Regions from separate parts of the Homo sapiens genome. Here region 2 is reported to be linked to region 1. The links are microRNA targets in miRTarBase. Many come from high-throughput screens and were not tested one by one. Region 1 holds a microRNA gene; the other region holds the end of a gene's coding sequence.
What was found. The annotated mature microRNA hsa-miR-506-5p reads UAUUCAGGAAGGUGUUACUUAA and lies in region 1 at 2,376-2,397, opposite strand. An mRNA with a match to its seed (bases 2 to 7 or 8) in the 3' UTR can be bound and repressed. Matches are read on the target gene's strand: a 7mer-m8 pairs with bases 2 to 8, a 7mer-A1 pairs with bases 2 to 7 and ends in A, and an 8mer does both.

Region 2: miRTarBase lists RAB32 as a target of hsa-miR-506-5p. The part of its 3' UTR that is shown has no 7-base or 8-base seed match.

What each region holds. Positions count from the first base shown.
Region 1 is chrX:147,228,413-147,232,815 of GRCh38, forward strand. It overlaps MIR506 (microRNA 506), which reads right to left and starts at 2,431; the gene lies at 2,308-2,431. It overlaps MIR507 (microRNA 507), which reads right to left and starts at 2,665; the gene lies at 2,572-2,665. All of the region lies in intron 2 of LOC105373347 (periphilin-1), which reads left to right.
Region 2 is chr6:146,553,933-146,558,335 of GRCh38, forward strand. It overlaps RAB32 (RAB32, member RAS oncogene family), which reads left to right. Exons shown (of 3, transcript NM_006834.5): 3 at 524-1,021. The coding sequence ends at 673. Among named protein-coding and RNA genes, the nearest start is that of RAB32, 12 kb to the left of the region's middle.

The DNA of each region.
Region 1 (4,403 bases):
AAGAGATATCTTGAAAACACGGAAAGAGAAAAGTCAATACAATATTTCCTAATTTTTTAAGAGGTCAGAGAAGGGAGTTACTGTGTGGCCTGGAGCAGGTGATTCTGACTACCAAGGGAAAATTGGAGTACTACTCCACAATGGAGGTAAGGAAGAATATTTCTGAAATACATAAGATGTCTCTTAGTATTACTATGCCTTGTGATTAAGGTCAGTAGAAAACTACAACAACCCAATCCTGGCAGGACTACTAATGGCCCAGACCCTTCAGAAATGAAAGTTTGGGTCACTCTACCAGGTAAAATATAATGGCTGAGGTGCTTGCTGAAGGCAAAGGGAATACAAAATGGGTAGTGAAGAAAAGTAGTTGTAAATACCAGCTAACACCAGATGACAGTTACAGAAATGAGAATTGTAGTTCCCATGAGTATTTTCTACTTATATTTTTATTAATATACTTCTGTGTTTTCTTGTCTCTCTTATCCCCTTATCATGTAACGTAAGGTGTACTGATATTATATCATAGTTATTAACCGTTGTTAACTTTAAATAATCATAGTATTGATGTTATGGAACACCAAGGAGAAGAGTAAACAAACAACACTCCAGGACTTTATCTCCTCTTCTGGTGAAGTGGTTCATGAATTCTGGGTTGTATAAATGGTAGTTGTATCTTATTAAATGAAATTATGACCTTGGTATTTTTCTCATTTGATGATTAAATATAATTTAAGGAGATGCGTATAAGTGACAACATGACAAGGAGTGAACTTGTGATGATTAATTCTATATTTCAACCTGACTGGGTCATGGAGTGCCCAGACATTTGGTCAGTCATTATTCTGGGTGTTTCTGTGAAGGTCTTTTTGGATGACATTAGCATTTAAATCAGTAGAATGAGTAAAGCAGACCACCCTCCCTAATGTGGATGGATGGGCCTGCACCAATCAGATGAAGGTTTAAATGGAACAAAAAGGCTGACTCTCCCCTAAGTTAGAGAGAATTCCTCCTGCCTGACTGCCTCCAAACTGGGGCATCTCATTTTTTTCTGGCATTGTACTCAAATTAAAACATTAGCTCTTCCTGGGTCTCAAACCTGCTGGCCTTTGGACTGGAACTACAAAATGGTTTGTTCTACTGCTTCTTTGGCCTCTGGACTTGGACTGCAACTATACCATCAGTTCTCCTGGGTCCCCAGCTTGCTGACCCATCCCCCTGCAGATCTAGGAACTCACCAGCCTCCATAGTTGCCTGAGGTTATTCCTTGCAGTATCCTTATAATAAATATCTTAAGGGATTTATTTTAAAAATAGACTTCTATAATAATTATATACATATATATTTGCTCAATCATTGTCCTGGGTGTTTCTTTGAAGGTCTTATAAGACCTGATCCAGAATCTGAGGGTGCCTGGGGTACCTGTGAAAAGTATGTCCTGTAGGTTTTTTAAGCATTTATTCCTTTTTCTCCACAAAAGGACTACAAAACACTGGGAACAAGATTTGAGGTAGGAACATGATCCTTTTTCTGCATCCTTTTCCTTTTTCTGTGAATGTCATATGTATGTGTGTGTGTGTGTGTGTGTGTGTGTATATATATATATATATATATATATATATATATATATAAAGGGATATATAAACCCCTTTGTATATGTAAAGTTTCCAGAAGTATATGTACACACATGTTCATACATATATGTTCTCATCACTTCATCCGTTCCCATAATAGTTAAGACCAGCTAAAAACATATAAATAGTTCAAATGAAAGCAAATTTGGGGTATCATATCAAACTCCACTGATATGAGATTATCATCACGGATACACAGGAATATTAAAGGGAATTTGAGTGTATCTAAGCCTTGAGGAGATCACTTCATAAGAAAGATGGTTCATGGAGTTTGGAGTTCAGCAGGGAAGGGCAGGAGGATATTTGTGCTCCCTAAAAAGAAGGCTTAAATATTGTGAGGAAAGAAGATCAGTGTAAACTTCTCAGGGGTTTATAAGGCAAGAAGTGTATTTGGGTTGTTATAGAGAGAAAAGACTAAGAGGTACAAGAGAAAAAGAAGTATCATGTTCCTACCTCAAATCTTGTTTCCAGTGTAGTCAGTCATTTTGTGGAGAAAAAGCAATAAATAATTGAAAAACCTACATGAGAGACTTTTCCCAGGCACCCTCAGATTCTGGAGCAGATCTCTCAAGAGGTACTTCAGAGAGTACCTGGAAATGGCTCATCACTAAAGGTTGGGTACCAAGGCTCAAGGGAGGGCAGTATTGTCACTGAAATTCCACTCGTCATTACCAATGCCACCACAAATGTTGTCCATGTTGCACATTACTCTACTCAGAAGGGTGCCTTACAAATATTAATCTATTAAGTAACACCTTCCTGAATAAGGCACTACACATAGTATGGCTGATGGTGGTGGCACTGACCATCTTAATAGTAACACGGGGAAACTACAGATGAGGCTATTCCCAGAGAACCTCATCCTCTAGGTTTTACCCCACAGAATTCTCTTTAAAGGGTTGTATGAGTTGACCCATCACTGAGTGGGTAGTTCTGACTTGTATCTGTTGTGCATTATTTCACTCCAAAAGGTGCAAAACATATTTCTAGACACATGCATGGCACTTCTTGAAGTGAAGCACTACACACAGCACAGCGGAAAATGTCCCTCACTCCGCCATTTCAGTCAGAATCCCAACACTCTCAGTCCACTAGGAATAAGCAGAATATAGTCAATAGATTAAAAAAAAAACAAACCCTTTTTCCTCTCCCTTTTGTCTCCTATGTCTTTCACTGAATGCTTATTAATTACTTCACCTGCTGCACATTTAATGAGACAGATTTTAGGAGAGAGAAAATTTTCCCTCTTCCTCCCAGACTTAGCATACTTCACTAAATTGTTCTGCTAATTTTCAATTTAATATAGTTGGCACATGAACAACTACTTCATATGCCTCAAAAGCCAGTCATTACATAGAAAGGACCACTCAAGTGACTCATCATATCTAGCGATTGCAGGCCAGATAGAGCTCAGTTGAAGCAGTGCTGGAGAGTTCTCTTCTTTCCAATTTGAATCTTCTTTATATCATTGGGGCCTTGGTTTGGCATCCTCTGTTCAGAGATGAAGGCCTACAGCAGCAGAAGCAGTAGTCACCACAGTCATGCACTTGCAAACCAGTGTTTAGACCAAGAAATATCTGCAACACATGTGAACACATGCATGCCACACATGCAAATAAACATGTGAACAATGAAACAAACAACCCCAAAACGAATGCTCACAAAATAGGGCAATGCAAACACAAAGACAAACACTGCATGATCTGACTCATACGCAGAGTCTAAGAAAGTTGATCTCATAGGAGTAGAGAGTAGAATGATGGTTACCAGAGTCTGGGGAAGGGAAGGGAAAGGGGGGTTGGGGAAAAATTGGTTTATGGGTACAGAGTCACAGTTAGGAGGGCTAAAAGTTCTGATGTGTTATTGTGCAGAAGAGTGATTGATTATAGTTAGTTAACAATATTTTATGGTATATTCCAAAATCACTAGAAGAGAGGGTTTTGAATGTTCTTCCCACAAAGAAGTGATGGACGTTTGAGGTAATGAAAATACTAAATCCCTGATTTGATTATTACACAATGCATGTATGTATCAAAACATCTCACTATATCTCATCAATATTTACAAATTATTATGTGTCAACTAAAAAAACAATAAAGGAGTAACAATTTTTTTTTTGAGACAGAGTTTTGCTTTTGTTGCCCAGGCTGGAGGGCAATGGCACAATCTCAGCTCACTGCAACCTCCGCCTCCTGGGTTCAAGCGATTCTCCTGCCTCAGCCTCCCACGTAGCTGGGATTACAGGCATGTGCCACCAGACCCAGCTAATTTTCTGTATTTTCTGTAGAAGCAGGGTTTCACCGTGTTGACCAGGCTGGTCTTGAACTCCTGGCCTCAGGAGATCCACTGGCCTCGGCCTCCCAAAGTGCTGGGATTACAGGCATGAGCCACCGTGCCCAGCCGGGAGTAACAATTTTTAAGAATGTAAAAATACTACTGAAAATTCTAATTAACACACATTTAAAAACACCATTCAAAATCGGAATAAAAAAAAACACACAAAATATACAAAACACATCCAAATATACAAAATTCTACAGGAAACAAAAACCCTAAAAAAGCAAACAAGCAATACAATAACAAAAATCAAAAAGAACATACACAATACAAAAACCCCCAAAACATAAAAACAAATACACTAAAATGTAACTTTACTTTCCAATAATCCCAAACAAAACAGAGAACGAAGTTCAAAGGAAATCTAGCACGTATCAGGGATAGACGACACTGCACTGAGAAATGCTGCGAGTGTAGGAAGGAGAGCAGTGGACA
Region 2 (4,403 bases), not on the chromosome of region 1:
TCCTTAATGGACATTGCACTGACAACATTGTTTCAGGCTAATTTATACATGACAACTAAAAGGAATAATTGGTACTTAGAGATGGAAAAATGACATGATACATTTATCACATTTTAATGTTGTTTGAGCCCTTTCAGTTTTTTTCACAGTGTATCCTGACTGCTTGAATTAGATATTCAAGGGCAGGAATTTTTTTATTTGGAATGTCTTCATTATATGAATTGCAGCCCAGAGCAAAGATTCATTTTCAACCGTCGAGATAGCTCATGGAACCTCAGTGGCAAAGGTTTAAGATAGGAACATCAGAAAAGGTGTCCTTCATAAAAATAAGGGAATTCTTTCCATCACCACATTATTCTTTAACATTCAACTCTAAGTGGGCACACACTTTAGTATTAGAGGAAAGTGGCTGTGCACTTGCTGCCACCTCTAACAAATTTTCCTGGTCCCATTCATACTCTTAATGCCTTATTCTAAGAATTAATCCTAAAAATTAATCCCGTTCTTCATTTCTGCATTACAGGATAACATAAACATAGAGGAAGCTGCCCGGTTCCTAGTGGAGAAGATTCTTGTAAACCACCAAAGCTTTCCTAATGAAGAAAACGATGTGGACAAAATTAAGCTAGATCAAGAGACCTTGAGAGCAGAGAACAAATCCCAGTGTTGCTGATATATGGCTTCTGCTTCTCTTGTGTGTGCCTCAGCTCTGAAGAAGTTCCTGAGAATGGGTTACAGATGTCATGTTAGCTGGGAGTCTTCCCACATGTGGCACTTCAAAAGGCAGCACCACTGGGCGCCTGCACTTATTTGAAAATGGAACTTTGGGAGAAGTATCCCTGCTAGTGGCTCTGTAACTTAACAGATGACAATTAGGCTTTTGTCATTGTTGCCATCATATGGAAGATAATGTTTACATCCTTTTAAACATTTTTATATGACAATTCCTCAGGATTTGGTAAGGCTTCCAAGTTGTAGCTTTTAGTGTAAGTGCTGGGGTGGTAATAAAATGTTACCTCCAGTCTTATGGTCATTTTGAGTCTTATTTTTGCCACCTTATTGCATCCTCGCTTTTTAGGGGGGTTTTTAGATTCTATTAGCCACGAAGGCTTGAGGTTTCTCTTTAGCGATTTTCTATTCAAAACTTTGGAAAGGCCAGGTATGGTGGCTCATGCCTATAATTCCAGCACTTTAAGAAGGTGAGGCAGGAAGATCACTTGAGCCCAGAAGTTTGAGGTCACAGTGAGCTATGATTGCACCATGGCACTCCAGCCTGAGCAACAGAGTGAGAACCTCTTTCTTAAAACAAAACAAAGCAAAACAAACAAACGAACCTTTTGAAACTTCGTGTAAAGTTACTTTCCTTACTTATAACTAACTTAACCATTCATAGCTGGTGTGGCATGTGGTCGCTCTTCTTAAATACATTAAAATGACCTTCTTAATGACTGAAAAAGTACTCATAGCACATCTGTATTATGGATGTTTCCTTCTGGATATGGTTACTACCCCTTGGAAACTATATAAATGAGCATTTCTTCTTCTCTCTCCCTAGTCCTTTCTCTCTTCTTCCTGTGTGTTTATGTTCATAACTGAGGGCCTAAGTGATATGATGGTTGCAATTCTTTCTCAAGTCTGTGATAGCAATGGTCAAGGAGAGAAAGTATTTCAAAGCATATACAATTAAATCTGAGCTTCTATAGTATGAATTGTGAAAGACACTAGGTCATGTGTGGTTTTATCTAAGGGTCGGGACATTTAAAGTATAATATCTAAGAAACTTAAGGCAGATTCACAATATCTGCATTACCATTTAAGCCAATTAATGAAAATAATAAATATTTTGACCGAAGTCTTACTTTTGAATTAGTATAATTCTACAATAGAAAGGTAATATGGGATGTACTTTTCTGCCTTAGAAAAATTTGTTAACTTTTGCCTTTTATTTTTAAGGGACTTACTTATATCATGTCCAACTTACTGATTTAAGAAAGGTCCAAACTTACTTCTTTCTTTTATTATTATTATATTATTATTATTATTATTATTATTATTATTATACTTTAAGTTTTAGGGTACATGTGCACAGTGTGCAGGTTAGTTACATATGTATACATGTGCCATGCTGGTGTGCTGCACCCATTAACTCGTCACTTAGCATTAGGTATATCGCCTAATGCTATCCCTCCCCCCTCCCCCAACCCCACAACAGTCCCCAGAGTGTGATGTTCCCCTTCCTGTGTCCATGTGTTCTCATTGCTCAATTCCCATCTATGAGTGAGAACACGCGGTGTTTGGTTTTTTGTCCTTGTGATAGTTTACTGAGAATGATGATTTCCAATTTCATCCACGTCCCTACAAAGGACATGGTGTATTCCATGGTGTATATGTGCCACATTTTCTTAATCCAGTCTATCATTGTTGGACATTTAGGTTGGTTCCAAGTCTTTGGGATTGTGAATAGTGCCGCAATAAACATACGTGTGCATGTGTCTTTATAGCAGCATGATTTATAGTCCTTTGGGTATATACCCAGTAATGGGATGGCTGGGTCAAATTGTATTTCTAGTTCTAGATCCCTGAGGAATCGCCACACTGACTTCCACAATGGTTGAACTAGTTTACAGTCCCACCAACAGTGTAAAAGTGTTCCTATTTCTCCACATCCTCTCCAGCACCTGTTGTTTCCTGACTTTTTAATGATTGTCATTCTAACTGGTGTGAGATAGTATCTCATTGTGGTTTTGATTTGCCTTTCTCTGATGGCCAGTGATGATGAGCATTTTTTCATGTGTCGTTTGGCTGCATAAATGTCTTCTTTTGAGAAGTGTCTGTTCATATCCTTTGCCCACTTGTTGATGGGGTTGTTTGTTTTTTTCTTGTCAATTTGTTTGAGTTCATTGTAGATTCTGGATATTAGCCCTTTGTCAGATGAGTAGGTTGTGAAAATTTTCTCCCATATTGTAGGTTGCCTGTTCACTCTGATGGTAGTTTCTTTTTGCTGTGCAGAAGCTCTTTAGTTTAATTAGATCCCATTTGTCAATTCTGGCTTTTGTTGCCATTGCTTTTGGTGTTTTAGACATGAAGTCCTTGCCCATGCCTATGTCCTGAATGGTAATGCCTAGGTTTTCTTCTAGGGTTTTTATGGTTTTAGGTCTAACGTTTAAGTCTTTAATCCATCTTGAATTAATTTTTGTATAAGGTGTAAGGAAGGGATCCAGTTTCAGCTTTCTACATATGGCTAGCCAGTTTTCCCAGCACCATTTATTAAATAGGGAATCCTTTCCCCATTTCTTGTTTTTGTCAGGTTTGTCAAAGATCAGATAGTTGTAGAAGTGTGGTATTATTTCTGAGGGCTCTGTTCTGTTCCATTGATCTATATCTCTGTTTTCGTACCAGTACCGTGCTGTTTTGGTTACTGTAGCCTTGTAGTATAGTTTGAAGTCAGGTAGCGTGATGCCTCCAGCTTTGTTCTTTTGGCTTAGGATTGACTTGGCAATGTGGGCTCTTTTTTGGTTCCATATGAACTTTAAAGTAGTTTTTTCCAATTCTGTGAAGAAAGTCATTGGTAGCTTGATGGGGATGGCATTGAATCTATAAATTACCTTGGGCAATATGGCCATTTTCACAATATTGATTCTTCCTGCCCATGAGCATGGAATGTTCTTCTATTTGTTTGTATCCTCTTTTATTTCGTTGAGCAGTGGTTTGTAGTTCTCCTTGAAGAGGTCCTTCACGTCCCTTGTAAGTTGGATTCCTAAGTATTTTATTCTCTTTGAAGCAATTGTGAATGGGAGTTCACTCATGATTTGGCTCTCTGTTTGTCTGTTATTGGTGTATAAGAACGCTTGTGATTTTTGTACATTGATTTTGTATCCTGAGACTTTGCTGAAGTTGCTTATCAGCTTAAGGAGATTTTGGGCTGAGACTATGGGGTTTTCTAGATATACAATCATGTCGTCTGCAAACAGGGACAATTTGACTTCCTCTTTTCCTAATTGAATACCCTTTATTTCCTTCTCCTGCTTAATTGCCCTGGCCAGAACTTCCAACTTTCAAATAAAATTGTAAGGGTTTTGTAACACAATCCAAAGCTAATGCAAAATGAGACCTTGACCAAATTTGTTTTATACATTAAGTGAACTTGGATGGGCAAGATTCATTAATTTATTGAGAACAAAAACAAAACCAAAGCCTAGGCTTGGCAAGATCTAATCCCAACACTTTGGTAGGTCAAAGCGGGAGAATCTCTTGAGCCCAGGAGTTCAAGACCAGCCTTAGCAACATAGAGAGACCTTGTCTTTACAAAAATCAAAAACAAAAACAAAACACTGAAAAACACAGCAAGAAGTGCATTTGCTTTGACAGCTATGTTCTGGGAATAAATAATAGTTGTCAGGGAC